2 separate regions of the Homo sapiens genome follow, and region 1 is linked to region 2. Evidence: fine-mapped expression QTL. Tissue or cell type: monocytes after triphosphate RNA. Region 2 holds a variant in brackets; the other region holds the start of a gene. All regions are shown on one strand. Distances are from middle to middle.

The links. PIP is the estimated chance that this variant, and not a neighbour inherited with it, causes the effect.
Region 1: POLR3E starts here. The variant in region 2 is fine-mapped to the expression of POLR3E in monocytes after triphosphate RNA (Kim-Hellmuth 2017, PIP 0.95). The same link has a PIP of 0.9 or more in B cells, CD8 T cells, NK cells, monocytes and monocytes after interferon gamma.

Annotation. Positions count from the first base shown.
Region 1 is chr16:22,291,016-22,301,839 of GRCh38, reverse strand. POLR3E (RNA polymerase III subunit E) reads right to left here and starts at 4,431. Exons shown (of 21, transcript NM_018119.4): 1 at 4,303-4,431. TRL-AAG2-4 (tRNA-Leu (anticodon AAG) 2-4) reads right to left here and starts at 4,700; the gene lies at 4,619-4,700. RefSeq lists silencers at 1,058-1,352, 3,211-3,350, 4,361-4,810 and enhancers at 3,561-3,700, 4,143-4,687.
Region 2 is chr16:22,329,643-22,340,466 of GRCh38, reverse strand. POLR3E (RNA polymerase III subunit E) reads right to left here. Exons shown (of 21, transcript NM_018119.4): 20 at 8,282-8,407; 21 at 5,371-6,823. The coding sequence ends at 6,767. LOC124903664 (a long non-coding RNA gene) reads left to right here. Exons shown (of 2, transcript XR_007065026.1): 2 at 1,985-6,557. Among named protein-coding and RNA genes, the nearest start is that of POLR3E, 38 kb to the right of the region's middle. The variant C/T (reference allele first, on the strand shown) is at 6,597.

The DNA.
Region 1 (10,824 bases), 39 kb after region 2:
CGATTCTTGCCTTAGCCTCCCAAGTAGCTGGGATTACAGGCATGCACCACCAGGCCCGGCTAATTTTTCTATTTTTAGTAGAGACAGGGACTTGCCATGTTGGCCAGGTTAGTCTTGAATTCCTGACCTCAGGTGATCTGCCCGCCTTGGTTTCCCAAAGTGCTGGGATTACAGGCGTGAGCCACTGCGCCCGGCTGAGACCAGCATGATTTTTGTCTGATCTACTTAACATTTGAACTATCTAATATTTATTTATTTTTAAGACATGTCTTGCTCTGTCACCCAGGTTGAAGTGCTCTGCCGTGATTTTGACTCACTGCAACCTCTGCTTCTTAGGTTCAAGTGATTCTCCTGCCTCAGCCTCCCAAGTAGCTGCAATAATTGGCATGCACCATCCGCTCAGCTAATTTTTGTATTTTCAGTAGAGACGGGGCTTTGCCATATTGGCCAGGCTGGTCTCGAACTCCTGGCCTCAAGTGATTCACCTGTGTTGGCCTCCCAAAGTGCTGGGATTACAGGCATGAGCCACCACACCTAGACAAAAGCCAAAGTCTTTATCATCCCATGTAAACCCTAAACAATCTCCTGCCCCTTGACCTGCCAGACCTCATCTCCCACAAGCCTCCTACCCTCCTCTCTGCTCCAAACCCACTTCTGGGGCTTTGTAGCTGCTCTACCCCCCCGATAACCTCATGGTCCCCCCTTCACCTCTTTCCGGTTTTTGCTCAAATGTCACCTTGTGGCTAAGACCTTCCCTCTCCAAATCACATTGCAAACTGCCTCCCCCACCCCTCAATTCCCTTCTCTGCTCTGGTTTTCTCCATAGCAGGTGTCTATCACCATGTGACAGTTTACAGCTCTGCATCTGTGCCCATCTCTATTGCCACTAAGCTGTAAGCTATGTGAAGGCAGAGATTTTGGTCTATTTTGTCCCTTGTGGTACCCCAAGTGCCTAGTACACAGCAGGCACTCAATACATGTTTGTTGTCTAAATAAATGAACCATGGGAATGCTATTTAATAGGAAGCTACAGAAGGATTTCGGGCAGAGGAAGACATGGAGCGGGTAGAAAGAGAAACTTCAGGGAAACAGCTATCGTAACAGTCCCAGAGATGGAGGATGGAATGAAAATCAGGAGTCGCATCTGGACAGTTTCAGTGCATCTCGACTGTCTGCTGTGCAGACAGAGGGCAGTGTAGAGCGGAGAGCCCAAGGCCTCACCCCATCTGCACCGGCTGCCAAGTGCCACAGATATGTCAAGCTCCTGCCTTCTCTGCAGCTGGGCAGTGGACAACTGAGAGGCTGGGGCCTGGGAGGTTCCCAAGACGCAATTGTTCTTTCTTGGCTATTGCTATGCCCTGTTGGCCTCTGCCCTGCCAGGGATCAGGGAGGCTGAGGTGCCCTGTCAGCTAGAGAGCTGGAGCTCCTTCCTCTGGATAGTACATCTGGGTTGATACAAAGAGTGTCACCTCCCTTCATCCTCCAGGCCGAGGTGATCCAACTCAGTGGCTTTCAAAGTTTTCAGCCTAAGATCCACCACAGTAAGAAATCCATCTCATATAAATAACCCAGAACATACATACAGTTGCATAACTGAAACAAGGTTTCACGTAACTATAACTGTCCCTACTATATGTCAGGCCGTGATGTTTTCTACTTCATTCAAAACAAAAAATGCTAGCTTCAATTCCCTTAAATTGATTTTACTTCCCACTAATAAATTTTAACCTGCAATGTGAAAAGCACTCATCCAAGTCTCCCTACGGCTCCTTATACCTACCTCCAAGTCTCCCAGCAACAGTGAGTCTTTGGAAAGAAGTAAATCAGGCTGGCATGGTGGCTCATGCCGGTAATCCCAACACTTTGGGAGGCTTAGGTGGAAGGACTGCTTGAGACCAGGAGTTCGAGACCAGCCTGAGCAACATAGTGAGGCGCCCCCCGCCCCCCGGTCTCTCTTTAAAAAAAAATTTTAGCCTGGCATGGCCTGCAGTCCCAACTACTTGGGAAGCTGAGGCAGCAGGATTGGTTGAACCCAGGAGTTTGAGGCTGCAGTGAGCTATGATCACACCACTGCGCTCCATCCTGGGTCACAGTGTGAGACTCGATCTCTACTGGGGGGAAAACAAAGCCAGGCACGGTGGCTCACACCTGTAATCCCAGCACTTTGGGAGGCCGAGGCAGGCGGATCACCTGAGGTCAGGAGTTCCAGAAAAGCCTGGCCAATAAGGTGAAACCCCGTCTCTACTTAAAATACAAAAATTAGCCAGGCGTGGTGATGCACGCCTGTAATCCCAGCTACTCGGGAGGCTGAGGCAGAAGAATCACTTGAACCCAGAAGGCAGAGGTTGCAGTGAGCCGAGATCTTGCCACTGCACTCTAGTCTGGGCAACGGAACAAGACTCCATCTCAAAAAAAAAAAAAAAAAAAAAGTAAATCATATTATTTCCCTGCCTAAGACCTGTCAACTGCCACTGTCACATAAAATAAAACCCAAACTCCTTTCCATGAGCCACCTAAGGCCCTACATAATCTTGTCTCTGTCTTCCCCTCACCATCCAGGCTGGTAGCCACTTGCTGGGCCTCCAACAAGGCAAGCCCCAGTCCACCCCAGGTCCTTTGCACATCATCTATTCTCCCACAGGGATTTCCAAGGTTGCTCCTTTTTATTAAATATCATCACCGCCTGCAGGAGAGGATAGGTTCCCTGACCACCCTATTTTAAAAGCCTCCCCCAGCCTCCTCCCAGGCCCTACCACATCTCTGTTTTCTTTCCTTGGTGGGTCTCATCTTAATCTGGAACTACCTGGTCTATTTGCTCAGGTGTTGTTTGTCTTCTGCAATAGAACGTAAGCTCCATGAAGGCTTCTCAGTGCTTCAGTTTCCTCAACTATGAAATGCAGACAATCATACTTTACTTCATCAAAGCTGTTATGGGGAGCATTACTTTAAAAAAAAAATCCAGTGCTGGTTCTCTCAATACCTAGAACAGTGCCTGGCACGAAGTTGACACTCAATATAGTACAAAGAATACTTTATATTTAATCTTCTCATTAGCCCTATCAATAGAGATTTATCATCTTCAATTTGGAAATGACGAGACTGAGGTTCAGATATAAGCAACTCATCCAAGGTGGAATGAGGACAGAAACTTGGGTCTCGCTATGTCAAAGATCCTTATTCTTATTCTTAACCACTATACTGCACGGTTTTCTGATAAACGGCAGTATGGTTAAGTGGGTAAGAGCTTGGACCCGAGAACAAAACTGTGCAGGTTCAAATCCCACCACAGCTGCTTGGCATCTGTGACCCACCTGAGTTGTCTGGGTTTGGTATTCCTCCCTATTTTCATCCCTAAAGTAGGGAAACTAAGTACCGACCTCCAGACCCCTGCGGGGAAGGAGTAAGGACAGGACGCTAATAAACGTAACCTCTGGGAAGGTTTGTTATTACTTGACAACATGTTTTCTGCCAACGTAAGCGGGTAATGACGCTAAGCCACAAGTCAAACGCTGCAAGCAGGAGCGTCACCCGGTTTCTACTGAGCCGTCACCACAACCCTATGAGGTAGGAATTTCTATTATCTCTATTTCACAGATGAGGAAACTGTGGAGATCGCTAAGATCTCTTCTTTCCGCCTCCAAGCCCAAGGAATTCTAAAGCTAACCCAAAGGAACGACCTTGTTTGTTTACTGACACCTCCTCGGACCGAATGGTCAGGGCTGTATCCGGAACACAGAGTTGGCTCGGTAAACACTGAATGGTTGCCTGAATAAATGAATGAGGAATCCCTGGCCTCGCCGGGCAGAGGCTAATCCGGTTCAGCTGCGAAGTGGGGGCTCCGGCAGGCGCAGGTGCCCTCCCTGCCCATCGGGGCGGGCCGCCGATCCCGAGCCTCGCTGTCCAATGGGTTTCTGCTCCCTCGCGGGTGGTCAGGCCCCCCTTCTCACGCCCACCACGCAGTCCCTGCCGCGAGCCGCCACTACACCCGACGCGCGGACAGGTGTTTCTTCCGTAGGAGGCCTCCCAGGCCCGGATAGGGCAGGTCGGCTGGACCCTGAGTCACCGCCGCCAGCGTCGGCCGCGGCCTCCCCAACTCCCAGGTGTCAGGTCAAGGAAGTCAGAGTCCGGGGTCGGCCTGGAGCCGGCTGCCCCTCCTCCCCGCCCGAGTCCCGAGAGGCCTCCAGCTGCTAGGCACAGCGCGGCGCGGGCCTCCTTGGCCTACTCGGGAATCTAGCCCAGGCCCACGTCGTGAGTGCGGTCCGGCTCAAGCCCCAGCTCGGGCACTGCCAAGACGGGACTCACCTCTCCGCGGGGGCCGAGCGCGGACGGCGGCAACGGCCCAGTTACCCGCGGGCTGCAGAGACGGCGGCGGCCCGGCTCTCCTCTCAGGCGGCGGCCATGTTGCTGGTGGAGAAACTCCGGCGGACACGTGGGGGGGAGCGGGCCGGCCCCAGCGTTTCCTCTTACCCACAATGCCCCGCCCCGGTGCACGCGGCTCCGCCCCCTCCGCCGCGCCATTCATGCAGGCCGTGAGCCCCGCCCTGCAGCAGGGGGCGCTGATGGCACGCGCAAAACTGAGCCAGGAGTGTATGCAGCGGGGACAAAAAGACAGCAACCCTGGCAGCGGTGGGATTCGAACCCACGCCCCCGAAGAGACTGGAGCCTTAATCCAGCGCCTTAGACCGCTCGGCCACGCTACCCAGCTGCAATATGTTTATGCCAGAAAGCTACTTAATGCTTTTGCTTTTGCATTTAATCTGGACATTGCGAGGCGTTTTCGCTGAGGTTTTTTTTTTGCTTAACGTGTGTTCAAGGTGATCCCTATAGAATTATTTTAAAAAGCCGTGTTTTGGAAAATAAACACTTGCTCCAGTCTTTAGACCCAGGTTGGTTCCGAATAGGTATTAGAGCAAAACGCATTTTTAGAAACTTTACTCTGAGTTGGATGGTTAACCCGGAGACCCCTGGTTAACCCACAGGTAATCCATACGACCCGGATTGGGTGTCTCCGGGAGAAGAAATTGATCTGATCAGAAACATGCACCAGGGGATCTGACGGCCAAACCCTGGAGCTGGTCTGGGCAGTTGTCTCTGAAAAATTATGTTTAAATTTTTACTTACACAAATAACACGCGAATTATTGCAAAATATTTAAACTTTGCAGATAAGGTACAAATGCTCTTTGACCTTGACTCGCATCCTAGGCCCCTCCGCCGAGGTAACTAACCATTATTATCTGTTTAATATGAACTATGGTTTGAATGTGTCCCCCAAATTTCATGTGTTGGAAATTTAATCCCCAATGTGGCAGTATTGTGTGGTGGGCCCTTTAAGAGGTGATTAGATCATGAGGGTGGAGCCCTTATGAATGGATTAATCTCTTCATGGATTCATGGATTAATGGGTTAATGGATTAATGGGTTATCTTGGGAGGGGGACTGATGGCTTTATAAGAAGAGGGAGAGAGACCTTAGCTAGCAAGGGAGCAGCTCAGCACCCCCTCCATATGATGGCTTGTACTGCCTGGGAACTCTGCAGGTGTCCCCCACCAGCAAGAAGGCCCTCACCAGATGCACACTCTTGACCTTGGACTTCTCAGACTCCATAACTGTAAGAAATAACTTCCTTTTCTTTACAAATTACCCAGTTTCAGGTATTCTGTTATAAGCAACAGAAAATGGACTAAAACACTATATATCTTTCTAGATCTTTTGCTGTGAATTTATATGTTTATATCTATATGGATATATATAGATATAGCCATAGAAGATAGCTTTGTTTTTATTGTGTATGGATTTGAACACAAATATTGTCACATTATTCATATAGATCTGCAATTGGCTGTTATTTTTCACCAGACTGTATTTTAAAATACCTATCCGTGTGGATATGCAAAGATATTAAAAACAAAAATGCACAAAAATTACAAAGAAAAAAATTATCATCCATAGTGCCACCACCTGGCATTAAATTAATGACTTAGTATTGTGGCATTTTTTTCCTTTTCTTTTTTCTTTTCTTTTTTTTTTTTTTTTTTTTTTTTTTTTTTGATGTGGAGTCTCGCTCTTGCTGTCTAGGCTGGAGTGCAGTGGTGCGATCTCCGCTCACTGCAATCTCTGCCTCCTGGGTTCAAGCGTCTCTACTAAAAATACAAAAATTAGCCTGGCGTGGTGGCACATGCCTGTAATCCCAGCTACTCGGGAGGCTGAGGCGGGAGAGTTGCTTGAACCCGGGAGGCGGAGGTTGCAGCGAGCCGAGATCCCACCACTGCACTCTAGCCTGGGCGACAGTGAGAAACTCGGTCTCAAATAAATAAATAAATAAATAAATAAATAAATAAATAAATAAATAAAAAATAGATCACACTATTACAAATAGAAATTATTAGACCATTGCAAATAGAAATAAGTCCCCCTCCCATTCTCCCCTGTCTATAACTGTCATGAATTTGATGTGTATCTTTCCAATAATTTCTTACATTTTTACTATAAAATTTATGAATAATATCTAAAATGGTTATCTGTATGTTTTTCACTTATATAAATGTTAGCACATTGTACTGATATCCTAAAACTTGCTTTTCTCATTTCAACAGTATTATTATTATTATTATTTTAAGAGAGTGTTGCTCTGTCACCCAGGCTAGAGTACAGTGGTGCAATCATAGCTTACTGTAGCCTAGACCTCCCGGGCTCAAGCCATCCTCCCACCTCAGCTTCCCAAGTAGCCAAGATTACAGGCATGAGAGACTGTGCCAGGCCCAACATTATGTTTTTGAGGTCTGTTATGATGCCTATAGATCTAATTCATTCATTCCATGCCATGTACAACTTTTAAGTTGTTACTAAATTTTTGTCATTACACACAATATGGCAGGAAGTATCCTTGCACATGGCTCCTTGTCTTACGTATGGACATTTCTCTAGGGTATACACTAGAAATGAAATTGCTGGTCTATATTTATACTTTCCCTAGTATTATATAATAATAATATTAATAATAGGCTGGTCTCAGTGGCTCACTCCTATAATCCTAGCACTTTGGGAGACTGAGGTGGCAGGATTGCTTGACGCCAGGAGTTCAAGACCAGCCTAAGCAACATCGAGAAACCTTGTCTCTACCAAAAAACAAAAGAAAAGAAATTAGCCGGGCATGGTGGCATGTGCCTGTAGTCTCAGCTACTTGGGAGGCCGAGGTGGGAAGATCCTTTGAGCCAGGGAGGTCAAGTCTGCAGTGAGCCGAGATTCAGGTGCTGCACTCCAGCCTGGGTGAGAGAGTGAGACCCTCTCTATATAGATATAGATATGCATATATTTTTCCATTTTGCCAAATTATATGACTTTTGATGACTTTTTTTTTTTTTCTATTTCTTCCTGAGTCAACTTTGGCAAGTTGTCGTTTTCTGGGAAAACAAAGCCCCATTACTTGATTTTTCACATTTATTGGCGTAAGAAATCTCAAATATCCCTCATATCTAAGGTTTTGTCCTCTATCATTCTCTATCGTTTCTCTTTCCCTCTGTCATTTACGTGGATTACTTTCTCCATTAGTTCTGTTCAACACAGGGAGTGGAGTCAATGCTTAAGGTGACTGAATGGGGGAATTAGGCAGGAACTCTACGAACGCTGGTGATGCTTTAGACACATCAAAAACTATATAAATCACACTTTTATAAGTAGAATTCTCATTTTGCATTGACTGGTATTAGACTTTTCAGGGCCATGATTCAAGTTTCTGGCTAATATCCAGTTGGTACACACCCCTAACATTTGGGCATTTTATGTCTTTCCTCTTCAATCCCTCCTTAGCCTGGCTTTTCTCCCCCTCCATCCACCACCTTTTTTTTTTTTTTTTTTAGAGAGACGGGGTCTTGCTTTGTTGCCCAGGCTGGAGTACAGTGGTATGATCACAGCTCACTGCAGCCTTGACATCCTGGGCTCAAATGATCCTCCCATCTCAGCCTCCCAAGTAGCTGGGACTAGAGCCACGCGCCACCACACTGGGCTAACTTTTGTATTTTTGTAGAGACGGGGTCTTGCTTTGCTGCTTAGGCTGATCTCAAGCTATCCTCCCACCTCAGCCTCCCAAAGTGCTAGAATTACAGGAGTGAGCCACCACACCTGGCCATCCATCTACCTTTAACATATGTAATGATATGCAAAGATTTTCTTGTGCTAGAAAAGTTTGTTGCTCTTCAAGACATTAAAAAAAAATACAGAAGCAGCCATGGATTGAAGACAAAGGGTAGGCATTGTGGGGAGTTCAAAGCTGAATGAGGAATAACCCCTTTAAGTCAATAGGAGTGTTTGTCATGGTATTTTAGTACCAGGAAGGACTTTGTTTGTGAGTTGGGTACTGGATTTTCCAAAAGGAAATATCCTCACAGTCAAGGATAATTGCTGGCATCTTTGCCCAGTCTGATTTTTCTAGGAACTGCCTGACCAGCCAGAGAGTGGGTCCCTGGCAGCCACCTTTGTGCTGCACGCCCCACCCCCACAGCCATGGCTAGTGGGTTCTACCGTTCTTCAGTGGACGTAGGATTCAGGTTGGACCAATCAAATTCTCTCTTGAGAATGTGAACTGAGACTCCGTGAGTTACTGATTTTGTTTTTTTTTTGTTTGTTTGTTTGTTTTGAGACAGAGTCTCGATCCATTGCCTAGGCTGGAGTGCACTGGCGTGATCTCGGCTCACTGCAACCTCTGCCTCCCAAGTTCAAACAATTATCCTGCCTCAGCCTCCCAGGTAGTTGGGATTACAGATGCACGCCACCATGCCGGGCTAATTTTTTTGTGTTTTTATTAGAGATGGGGCTTCACCATGTTGGCTAGGCTGGTTTCGAACTCCTGACCTCAAGTGATCTGCCCACCTCAGCTTCCCAAAGTGTTAGGATTACAGGCGTGAGCCCCCGCACCCGGCCCGATTTGTTAATTTGACCGTGTTGCGTTGGAATTAGTCTCTGAGGCTGGCTAAAACTAGGAAGAAAGGGGGATTTCGCATGGCTATATTCTGTGAGGTGAGTTGGAGAGGTAGACAAAAGCCAGTGTATAGAAAAAGAGGGAATGAGAGAGTGAGAAGAGCAGAGTCAGGGAAATCCTGATGGTTTTCTGGCTTCCAGCTCCAGACCCTTTCCAAGGCCCAGTGGGTTGTCCACTCTTGGAGGCATCCCTTTATCACTGTAATAAATTCCCTTTCTCTGCTAAAGCCCAGTGCTACTTGGTAGTTGTCAACTGTAAACAATAACCCCCTCCCCCTTGCAAGGCAAAGGCTCAAATGAAGCTGTGTGTGTGTCTTTGTGTGTGTGTGTGTGTGTGTGTGTGTGTAGAATTTTTTTTTTTTTTTTTGAGACAAGTTCTTGCTCTGTTTCCCAGGCTGGAGTGCAGTGGCACAATCATTGCTCACTGCAGCCTTGACCTTCTGTGCTAAAATGATCCTCCCATCTTAGTCTCCTTAGTTGCTGGGACTGCAGGAGCATGACACCATGCCTGGCTACTTAAAATTTTTTTTTTTTTCACAGAGACAGGGGTCTCGCTATGTTGCCAGGACCGGTCTTGAACTCCTAAGGCTGAGATATTTCTGCTAGAACATTCTGGAGCAACTTGTCTCTTTCTACAAACACATACTGAGCAGGATGCTTAATTAAGAGGAAGCCTGCAGGGAAACAGCTGATCCTGGAAGGCACAGCACCCTTTTGAGAGTTTCTTACAGTCCAGCAGCCCCTTACACAGTTTTCTCATGACAATCAGACATGAAATCAATGAGCAAGAGATGCAGAATGTTGCATCAGAACCCCTGGACCTACAAGGTCTCAGCAGCGGGATGCCTGACAAGGGAGGGATGGGCTGAAACTCCGACTATTCTTTGTGTGCCTGTCCCTATATCATAAACACTAGGCTGTGGATAGTGGAAATGGGTGTGGGGTCTCAGTCCTGGATCCCCTCCATTCTTTCCTCCCTTGCTCCCATAAAAGGAAAATGCTCTCAAACCTGGCCTGAGACCATATCTTTCTGTAAGAACCTCCTTCTGGAAAGAAACTAGCATTTCTGATAAATGCTCGAGCATTGAGCATTTTTCTTTTGAAATTTAAGAGCATTGAGATTTACACTGGGAAACTAGCTTTCTACTCACTCAGTTGATGGTCATTTGTCAGTCAAGAGTGCAGTGACCTTTAACGGAACATTCTTTTCTTTTCTATTTTGTCTAACAGTGATTATCTAATCATTTTCTTCTCCTAGAAAATGTCTCTATCAAGATAGAGGTCAGAAGAGTGGCCAACATTTTTCGGGGTGGAGAGAGGGTGTATTGCCTGGGAAGGGGTCCAGGGGGGCTTCTGTAGGCCTGCAAATGTTCTAATATCTTGAATTGGGTTGTTAAGACACAGATGTGTACAAATGTAAAAATTCATCAACCTGTATACTTAAGAGCGTGCAGTTTAATCTACATAGGCAGACTGTAATAAAAAATAAATTTTTAGAAAATGTCCCTACCAAGTATAAATCTTTGAATTCCCAGTGGGTTTACACTTGCAGCAAGACTGTGATTTTTTTTTTTTAAGATATGGGCTTTCACTGTGTTGACCAGGATGGTCTTGAACTCCTGGCCTCAAGCAATCCTCCCATCTTGGCCTCCCAAAGTGCCAGGGTTACAGGTGTGAGCCACCACGCCCGGTCAAGACTGTAATAAAATTTTGACGTATGCTGTAACAAAACCAACAGAAAAGTTTTCTTTATTAACTTCTCTCTAATCTTTTTTTTTTTTTTTGAAATGGAGTCTCATTCTGTCACCCAGGCTGGAGTACAGTGGTGTGATCTCGGCTGACTGCAACC
Region 2 (10,824 bases):
TGCTCGGCCTAATTTTCTTTTCTTATAGTGTCCTTGTCTGGATTTGATATCAGGGTAGTGCTGGCCTTGTAAAATTAGTTTGAAAGTATTCCTCTTCATCAAATTTTTGGAAGTTTCAGAAAGATAGGTAGTAGTTTTCCATAAATGTTTAGTTGAATTCGGCAATGATGCCACCAGGTCCTGGGCTTTTCTTTGATGGCAGACTTTTTAAAATTATTGATTCAACCTTCTTACTCATTGGTCAGATTTTCGGTGTCTTTGTGATTCAGTCTTGGTAGGCTGTATGTGTCTAGGAACTCATCCATTTCTTGTAGGTTATCCAGTTTGCTGGTAATTTTTTATGGTAGTCTCTTAGGATCCTTTGTATTTCTTTTCTTTTCTCTTTTTTTTTTTTTTTTTTTTTTTTTTGAGACAGAGAGTCTTGCTCTGTCTCCCAGGTTGGAGTGTGTAGTGGCGTGATCTTGGCTCACTGCAACTTCCATCTCACGGGTTCCAGCAATTCTCCCACCTAAGCCTCCCAAGTAGCTGAGATTACAGGCATGTACCACCACACCCAGCTAATTTTTTTTTTTCGAGATGGAGTTTTGCTCATGTTGCCTAGGCTAGAGTGCAATGGCATGGTCTTGGCTCACTGCAACTTCTGCCTCCCGGGTTCAAGTGATTCTCCTGCCTCAGCCTCCCAAGTAGCTGGGATTACAGGAACCTGCTAGCATGCCTGGCTAATTTTTTGTATTTTTAGTAGAGACAGGGTTTCACCACTTTGACCAGGGTGGTCTCAAACTCCTGACCTCAAGTGATCCGCCCACCTTGGCCTCCCAAAGTGCTGGGATTACAGGCATGAGCCACCGTGCCTGGCCTGATCCTTTGTATTTCTATGGAATCAGTTGTAATGTCTTCCCTTCTCCCTCTCCCTTCTTTCCTTTCTTTCTTTCTTTCTTACAAGGTCTCACTCTTATCGCCCAAGCTGGAGTGCAGTGGTGGGATCTCAGCTCACTACAACATTCCCTTCCCAGGCTCAAGTGATTCTCCTACCTCAGCCTCCCAAGTAGCTGGGATTACAGGTGCCTGCCACCATGCCCAGCAAATTTTTGTATTTTTTAGTAGAGATGGGGTTCACCATATTGACCAGGCTGATCTCAAACTCCTGACCTCAGGTGATCCACCTGCCTTGGCCTCCCAAAGTGCTGGGATTATCTTTTTCCATTTCTAATTCTATGAGAGTCTTCTCTATTTTTTCTTAGCTAGAAGTTTGTCAATTTTATCTTTTCAAGAAACCAACTGAATTTTGTTGATCTTTTCATTTTTTTCAGCTCTGGTCTTTACTATTTCCTTTCTTTTATTTATTTTTGAGACGTAGTCTTGCTCTGGTCTTTATTATTTCCATTTATGTATATATGTATGTATTTTTGAGATGGAGTCTTGCTCTGTTACCCAGGCTGGAGTGCAGTAGCGTAATCTCATCTCACTGCAACCTCCGTCTCCCAGGTTCAAGCGATTCTTCTGCCTCAGCCTCCCGAGTAGCTGGGACTATAGGAGCGTGTCACCATACATGGCTAATTTTTTTGCATTTTTAGTAGAGATGGGGTTTTTCCATGTTGGTCAGGCTAGTCTCAAACCCCTGACCTCAGGTGATCTGCCCACCTTGGCCTCCCAAAGTGCTGGGATTACAGGTGTGAGCCACCTCACCTGGCCTATTTCCTTTTATTAACTGGGCCTAGTTCTTTTTATTTTCCTGGTGCCTTGAGGTGTAACATTGGGTTGTTTATCTGAAGTCTTTTCTTTCTGATGTGGGTGGGGATTGCTATAAACTTCTGTCTCAGAGCTGCTTTTGTTGTATTTCATGTTTTGTGTCCATTTTTGTCTCAAGATATTTTTAAAATTTTTCCTTTTAGTTTTTTTCATTGGCCTATTTGTTGTTCAGGAGCATGTTTAATTTCCACGTATTTGTAAATTTTCTGAAATTCCTCCTGTTACTGATTTCTAGTTTCATACCATTGTGGTCAGAAAAGATACCGCCCTAATATATGATCTGTCCTGGAGAATATTCCATGTATGCTCGAGAAGAATGTGTATTCTGCTGTTGGATGGAATCTCCTGTATATGGTAGGTCCATTTTGTTTAATGTGTAAAATCTGATGCTTTCTTATTGATTTTTTTTTTTTTTTTTGGCCTTGATCTGTCCATTACTGAAAGTGGGATATTGAAATCCCCTACTATTATTGTATTACAGTCTGTCTCTCCATTCAGAGCTATTCATATTTGCTTTCTATATTTAGGTGCTCAGATATTGAGTGAATATTTACAGTTGTTAAGTGACCCCTTTATCATTATACTGTGACCTTGTCTCATTTTACAGTTTTGACTTAAAGTTTGTTTTATCTAATGTAAGTATAGCTCTCTTGTTCTCTTTTGGTTTCTATTTGCATGAAATGCCATTTTCCATTCCTTCACTTTCAGTCTCTATGTGTCCCTTACAGGTTAAATGAGACACTTTTTGGCAGCATATAGTTAGATCTTTTTTTTTTTTTTAATCCAGCCACTCCGTTTTTGGATTATGGAAGAGTTAAACCATTTACATTCACAGTAAATGGATTGGAGAATTTAATCCATTTACATTCACAGTAGTAACTCCTTACCTATCCCTGTTGGTAGGTAAGGAGTTACTACTGCAATTTTGTTGTTTTCTGGTTGTTTTGTAGATCCTTTGTTTCTCTCTTACTGTCTTCCTTTGTGATTTATTTTCTTTAGAGGTATGCTTTGATTCCTTTTTATCTTTTGCATATCTGCTATAGGTTTTTGCTTTGTGGTTATCATGAAGCTTATGTAAAACACAGTGATAGCAGACTATTTTAAGCAGATAACTTTGATTGCATTAAAAACTATACTTTATTCTCTCTCCCACATTTTGTTTTTGAGGTCACAATTTACAAGTTTTATATTTTGTATCCCTTAACAAATTAGCTATTAATAGTTTTATCTTTTAACCTTTATACTAAAGATAAGCAATATATATACCACCATTACAGTATTAGAGTATTCTTGAGTTTGACATTATGCTTTTACCAGGTTTATACTTTCATATGTTTTCATGTTACTAATTAACATCCTTTTCTACCAGCTTGAACTCCCTTTCACATTTTTTTGTAAACACAGAGCTGGTGATGATGAAATGCTTCAGCTTTTGTCTGTCTGGGAATGTCTTTTTCTCCATTTCTGAAGTTTTGCTGGATAAAGTATTCATGGTTGGCAATTTGTTCTCCTTTAGCACTCTGAATATATCATCCTACTCTCTCCTGGCCTGTAAGGTTTCTGCTGAGAAGTGCTAGCCTTATTGGAACTCCCTTATATGTGATCTGCTTCTTTTCTCTAGCTGCTTTTAGGATCTTCCCCTTTGTCTTTTGATTTTTGACAATTTCATTATAATGTGTCGTGGTATAGTTTTGTTCATACTGAATCTGATTGGAGACTTTTGATACTCTTATACCTGGATATTTATATCTTTCTCCAGATCTGGAAGGTTTTCTGCTACTATTTTGTGATTTATTTCTTTCTTCTCCTTACTGAACTTCTATAACTCAAATATTTGCTCTTTTGATGCTGTCCTATAAATCCCTTAAGCTTTCTTCATTCCTTTTCATTCTTTTTGTTCTTCTGGCTATATTTTCAAATAATCTGTCTTTGAGTTCATAGATTCTCTGCTTGATCAATTCTGTTGATGCTCACTATTCCATTTTTCATTTCATTCATATTATTTTTCAGCTTCAGAATGGTTTGTAAAAAATATATAACTTCAATCTATTAGGTTTCTTGATTTGGTTTTCTTTATTTTGTTGAGTTATATCTGTGTATTTTCTTGAAGTTTGCTGAACTTCCTTAAAACTATTTTGAGTTGTCAGGCAGTTCATAAATCTCCATTTCTTTAGGGTAGATTTCTGGTGCTTTATTTTGTTACTTTGGTGATAGCATGTCTCCCTGATTGTTCTTGATCCTTGTGGTCATATGTTGATGTCTGTACATTGGATGAAGTGGTAAGGACTGATTCTAATCTTTGCAGTCTGACTTTGCCTGGAACAGCCGTTTACCAGTGAGCCCATTCAGAGATTCTGGGCAAGTTGTCTGGTGTGGTCTTCTGTGGGCAGGCTTGTTGCTGGAGTCCTTGAGCAGGCTGACCTAGTACCTAGGTCAGCAGATGGATGAGCCTGGTGCTTGCATGCATAGGATTAATCCTGGAACGTAGGTCCAGTGGAGTGGGCCAGTTGATTGGGTCTGCAGGGGTACAACCAGAGCCTGAGTCCACAAGGGCAGGCCTGGAGCCTGCATCCAGGGAGCTGACCTGAAGCCTAAAAACCTGCAGGGGTGGGCCTAGGTTCTGGGTCCATAGGGACTGTTCTGGAGCCTCAGTCCGCCAGGGCATGCCTGGCATTGAGGCTTACTGAGGTATGTGCCTGGAACCTGGGTCCACTGGAGCCTGGTGCTGAGGCACACATGGACCTTGGGTCCAGGGGTATTGTACTGGAGCCTGGGATTGTGGGTGCTGGCATGGGGGCATATAGATCAGCCTGGAGCCAGGGGTATATAGATACTGGCCTGGAGATTAGTCTCTGAGGGCTCGCTTGGATCCTGGGGCCATGGGGGCTGGCCTAGAACCTGGGGCTGCAGGGGATATTGGAGCCTAGTCTGTGAGGGCCAGCCCAGTGCTGGGGTTTACTCAGATGGGGCTGGACCAGGGTGGGGAGGGGGTGCCTGCTAGAGTGTGAGCTCATGGGTGCAGGCCTGGCAGTGGGTATGCTTAGAGCCTGTGTTCCTGGCGCAGGCCTGGAGTCTGGGGCTGGCATGATTTTGGGGTCCAATGTTCTCCTTCCTCCAAGTAGAGGGTCTCTCTCTCTCTCTCTCTCTCTCTCTCTCCACCCTGTGCTGCCTGGGGCTGGGGAGGGGGTAAGCTAGGTAATGTAAAATTGTCCCTCCTATCCTCTTTAGTACATCTTATTTCTGTGGTACACCAAGGTGCTGTAATCTCTAGAGGTTCCTTAACTCTTGTGAAGGTATTTTTGTGTGTGGACAGTTGTTTAAATTCATGTTTCTGCAGGGGGATGAGTGCTGGAAAGTCCTATTCTGACATCCCAAGTTCCCTCAATTTTTTTTAAAACAATAGTTCCCTCCTATATTCCTTGTTTCTTTTTCTTGCTATTTGAGTTTGGTGTTTTAACCAGTTCTTTTTATCAATGTAAAGTATTTAAGGCTCTGACTTCTCCACTGAGCCAATTAAGTTCTGCAAGGTGATGGGACTAACATTCTGTGCCGTCCCACATGAGCATTTCCCCTTTCAAAGTGAGAAGGAAGTAGGATGGAAAAGCTGAGACATATTCCAAATCGCTTTTGGTAACTTTACTTTTCAGGTTCACATATGTTAACAGAATCAATACACGATCAACTTGTTAAGTGATGTTACCAAATACTTATTTGGCAAAGTACATCCTTGATCAATGCCTTAGTGATTCTATAGCTAAAATATTAGATGTTTTATTTTGGGGGGAGTGGGGAAATAGCATAGACCGTCATTTAAACCTTCAGACAATTAGTGACTGTGTTGTACAAAAAAGATGGCGAAAGCCTTATCTAGATACCAAAATTCACATGTCATCCAACCTAGCTTACTCTTATTTTTTCCATCAGTTTCTAGGGCTGTGCTATCCAATACTGTCGCAAATAGCCCCATGTGGCATCGGAGCACTTATGATGTGGCTAGTCCAAACTGAGTGTTGAGGAAAGTGTAAAATGCCAGATTTTGAAGACTTTTACCTTATGTTGATGTTTTAGATATTTTGAGCTAAATAATATGCTAACATGACCTTTTTAAACTAATGTGGTTGCTAGAAACTTTCAAAATTATGTACGTGACTCGCCTCTTTCTAGTGGACAGTGCTGCTCTGTCTTCCTCCATTAGCTCCGTTCCCTCTAGATACACGTAACGCTGAGCCCAACAAGATCGCCTTCCTGTAACCATTTGAAGATAGCACCATGATGCTAGTTTAGTGTTTGCATTTATTTTAAAAATACACAAAATAGAAATTTTTACATCAAAGTGTGATAACCTCACTTACACATTGTTCCATACTTACCTGGTTTTGTTTGCATCTTTCTGCAAACATTAAAAGGAGATGGATTTGATTCTGATTTTTTTGCTATGGTTCATGTAAACAGTTGAGACTGCTACATAAAGTAGGTTGTTGTCAAAGGTGAAGTGGCCACAGAATCCCAAGAATAGAATAATTCAATTTGGTTTAATGAAATTGGTGGAGGTCTTAGCAGATAGATAATCCAAGACTAAATATTGTCTTCTAGGCATTTTAAAAATTAAGAACTTTGAGGTTTTCTTCATGTTGTAAACATAACTTAGACCTTGTTGGCATTAAGTTTACAAAAGAAAATATTAAACCATGATTTTTATCATCCTGCCCATGTCAGTATACACTCTCTTTATTATGAGAATGAAACCAAATAATAAGCAAAATACATCAGGAATTTCAAATTGTACTGCAAAGAAGGTCCCAGCTGGTCTCTTCTGGGAGTGATCTAACTAACTTAAGCTGACCCTG[C/T]GACTGGCTGAGGATAATCCCTTCTGTCCACTGCACCGTGCAATGCCACAGGTCATGAGATGGTCAGTTCCTCTTGCTCTGTGTCGTCTGAAGCAAGTCGAGGCCCTACTTCTGGTTCCGCCCTTCTTCCTTGGGCTTAGATTTGCTGGGTTAGTAGTTTGCTACTATTGTCAAGACTGTACTGTCCCTTTAAGGTACCACATGCCACCATAGCTTACACAGCAGTCCTATGAGAGAGAAACAGGGTAAGCACAGATTTTTGCAGGAAAAGGAGCTAATTACATTCTGTCCACAATGTCAACACTCGATTTATGATTAGTGAATAGAATACAAATGGGAAATCAAAAACTGCCTAACCATACCACCATGGCTACTACCAGCCACCCTTTCCTCAGGGGTAGTGTTTTTTTTTTTTTTTGAAACAGAGTTTTGCTCTTGTTACCCAGGCTGGAGTGCAACGGCATGATCTTGGCTCACTGCAGCCTCTGCCTCCCAGGTTCAAGCGATTCTCCTGCCTCAGCCTCCCAAGTAGCTGGGATTACAGGCATGTACCACTACGCCTGGCTAATTTTGTATTTTTAGTAGAGATGGGGTTTCTCCATGTTGGTCAGGCTGGTCTCAAACTCCTGACCTCAAGTGACCCACCCACCTCAGCCTCCCAAAGCGCTGGGATTACAGGTGTGAGCCACCGCGCCTGGCCATTCCTCAGGGGCATTTTAAAAGTGAGGGTGGGCCAGGCATGGTGGCTCACACCTGTAATCCCAGCTACTTAGGAGGCTGAGGCAGGAGAATTGCTTGAAACTGGGAGGTAGAGGTTGCGGTGAGCCGAGATTGTGCTACTGCACTCTAGCCTGGGCAACAAGAGCAAAACTCCATCTCAAAAAAAAAAAAAAAAAAAAAAAAGGGGGTCTACGAAATACAGATACTGACATGCCCAGAACAAGGGTGCTTAAAAAACAGTATTACTTATATGGCTCTGGATGTTTAATCAAAACAAGACATTGTCATCAGTTTTCTGTCTCTCAGTGTTGCTGCAAATATGGTTGGTATTTGTACTACAGTCACTTCAGAAAAGCATTATAGGTTGTACATTAGGTGCTTTCATATAGTAAACAGATCATATTCCTTTTTAAACTAAATTTAAGAATGGATTCTACTGAAAGTCATGTGTGTGGCTATGGCAACAATCAGAAGATAGTTCAAAATTCAAGGGAGAGTAGAGTGAGGATTCTCAACTAGGCCCTATCATTTTAGAAGACGCCTACCCACTGCCAAGCTCATCCAACCTACCATATTTTTTTGTTGTTCTATTGTTTTAGGCTCTTAGCAGCCTGAAGCCATGGTTTTTAGTTTCTGTCTCTAGTGACAAGCAGAGAAGAGGGATGAAAGGGGCATTACTGGCCTGGCCCAACCAGAAAGAGAAACAAAGCATCCATGGCTGTATTCTTTCCCTTGGACACCACTGTGACTATATTGTTTGAAGGGGTCAGTCCTCTGGCACATACCCCCTTCCCCAACCAATGCCAATCAATCAATCATTAACAGTTGCTCAAGACAAGACTGACTGGGGAGTGGTCCCAAGGAAGCCTGATTTCATATACACAAAGACACTAGAGTCCCTTCTACACACTGTCAGCCCCTTCCAGAGCCTTTGATATTGTTTGTTATGCACAAAATGGATGTACCTTTAGTACTTTATCCACCTCCTGTTTACTGAGATCTTCTCCACACTCTTGAGTCAACCGAGACTGGATCATGTTTCGGCGTACCCGGTAATTTTTGGAAAAAATTTCAAGCAAAACCTGTCGATGCTTTAGTAGCAAAAACACGTTATGATGGGAAACAGTGATCTAAAAAGAGAAACATCCCCAAACAAGACACCCAAGCCATGCACCTGACTTTGTGTTGCAGTCTCTGATAAAAACCCTCACGCAGCACCTCTGGTTAAAGATGAGCCAAGTCATCTCTAGAGACCCAGCAAGACAGTGTACAGAAATAAAAACACAAAAGTAAAGGCATTAATGCTATGTCTGGAAACTTGAATATAAATAAAAACAAAGGTATATGCCAGCATAACAAAAGAACTGGTGAAGAGACATGAGAGGATGAGTGGCTTGAACATATTTCTGCATGGTAAAATGCAGGCGTGCATCGGACTTAGCAAGCAGGTGAAGCGACAATCTAAGCTGCACGGAGATGAGAAGAGGGTGTCAAAATTGGTGTGAAGTCTTAATGCACAAACATGCCACTGCATCCATGAAACAGGATGCCGTAAAATACGTTACACCCCAAAATAAAAATGGAAAAGATTGGATTCAGTATGTCTAATATCTGTCATAAGAATTCTGAAAAAAACAAAAAAAAGTAACAACTCACAGGATTTTATAAGAACTCAATTGTCTAGTACAATAATGACCCGCACCAGGGCACAGCTGAAATGGCACTGACTGATATACAGAATAATGAAAAATTCTGCAGTTTGGCATAAAGGAAAGAATACAGGCCAAATTTAAAAGACCAAGAAGGAGAATGTTATGGAATTTCAACAACTCTGAAAACTTAAACAATGGAAACTCTCTTAAAGATGCTTCATGCCGGGCGCAGAGGCTCACGCCTGCAATCCCAGCACTTGGGGAGACCGAGGCAGGCGGATTACCTGAGGTCAGGAGTTCGAGACCAGCCTGTCCAACGTGGTGAAACTCCGTCTCTACTAAAAATACAAAAATCAGCCACGCGTGGTGGCACACGCCTATAATCCCAGCTACTCAGGAGGCTGAGGCGGAGGTTGCAGTGAGCCGAGATCGTGCCATTGCACTCCAGCCTGGCTGACAGAGGGAGACTCTGTCTCAAAAAAAAAAAAAAAAAAAAAAAAAAAAAAAAAAGGATGCTTCATGTATCACTATTTGTCTAGGACTAGAATTTTGAGAGGCAAATCATTTGATCACGTAAAAATAGAAACTTTGATAACCTCACACATTGTTCCATACTTAGCTGGTTTTGTTTGCATCTTTCTGCAAACATTAAGAGGAGATGGATTTGATTCTCCTTTTTTTTTGCTATGGTTCATGTAAACAGCTGACTGCTACATGAAGTATCCTTTGCCTCTTAAAATTCTAGTCCCAGACAAACAGTAATACTGTATTGTAATCCATTTTAAGACATGAAAGAATGCAGACAACTCCTCTGTCTCTTCAGAAGCTAAAGCAAGGAAGAAGCAGAGATTCCAGAATTCAGCAACAGACATGGGGAAGAGCGAGTCTCACTGGAGAAGCAGAGGGAGAGGCTTCCCGGGAACCAGGCTTAATTAAGCAAAGTATCACCCTCGGTACACATGTGTTCAGAAAATTACACAAGTGAAAACAGGAAGCAGTGAACAAGGAAATGCAATCATAGTATATTACTGATGTTTGGCTCTACAATGGATAGATTTTCAGTTCATTCTGTGACAATGCTATAAACAATGATAGCCAATTAAAAAGAGGTAAAGGCCTGGTGTGGTGGCTCACGCTTGTAATCCCAGCACTTTGGAAGGCCAAGGCAGGCAGATCATTTGAGGCCAGGAGTTCGAGACCAGCCTGGCCAACATGGTGGGACCACCCCCCGACCCCTACCACCGCGATCTCTACTAAAAATACAAAAATTAGCTGGGTGAGGCAGCACAAGCCCGTAATCCCAGCTACCCGGGTGGCTGAGGCACAAGAATCGCTTGAACGCAAGAGGCGTGAGCTGAGATGGCACCACTGCACTCCAGGCCTAGATGACAGAGCAAGAGCAAGAGCAAGACGCTATCTATCTCAAAAAAAAAAAAAAAACTGGCGTAACATATCTATCTCTACAGTCTCCTAAAATAGTTGAGAGCTAAATCTCATCCACCACAATGGGAAGCCCATTGCTAATGACAGGCTGATTTTTTTTTTTAAATGGGGGCAGCTATTTTAGTGGTATCTTTTGGTGATGTAAATGCCTATGATCCTAGCACTTTGGGAGGCTGAGGCAGGAGAACTGCTTGAGGCCAGGAGTTCAAGACTAGCCTGGCCAACATAGTGAGACCCTGTTTCTATTAAAAAAGTAGTAATAAAAGTGGTCACCTCTGAGGGGTGGCAGTCAGGTCCAGCAGTGCAAGAGCTTTCCTATTAAAACTTCTAGTCTGATTTGATGTTTAAAAATCTGCATTTATGACTTTTGTTTTTTTGCCTTTTTGTTATCAAAGTATTTCAGATACCCTCTA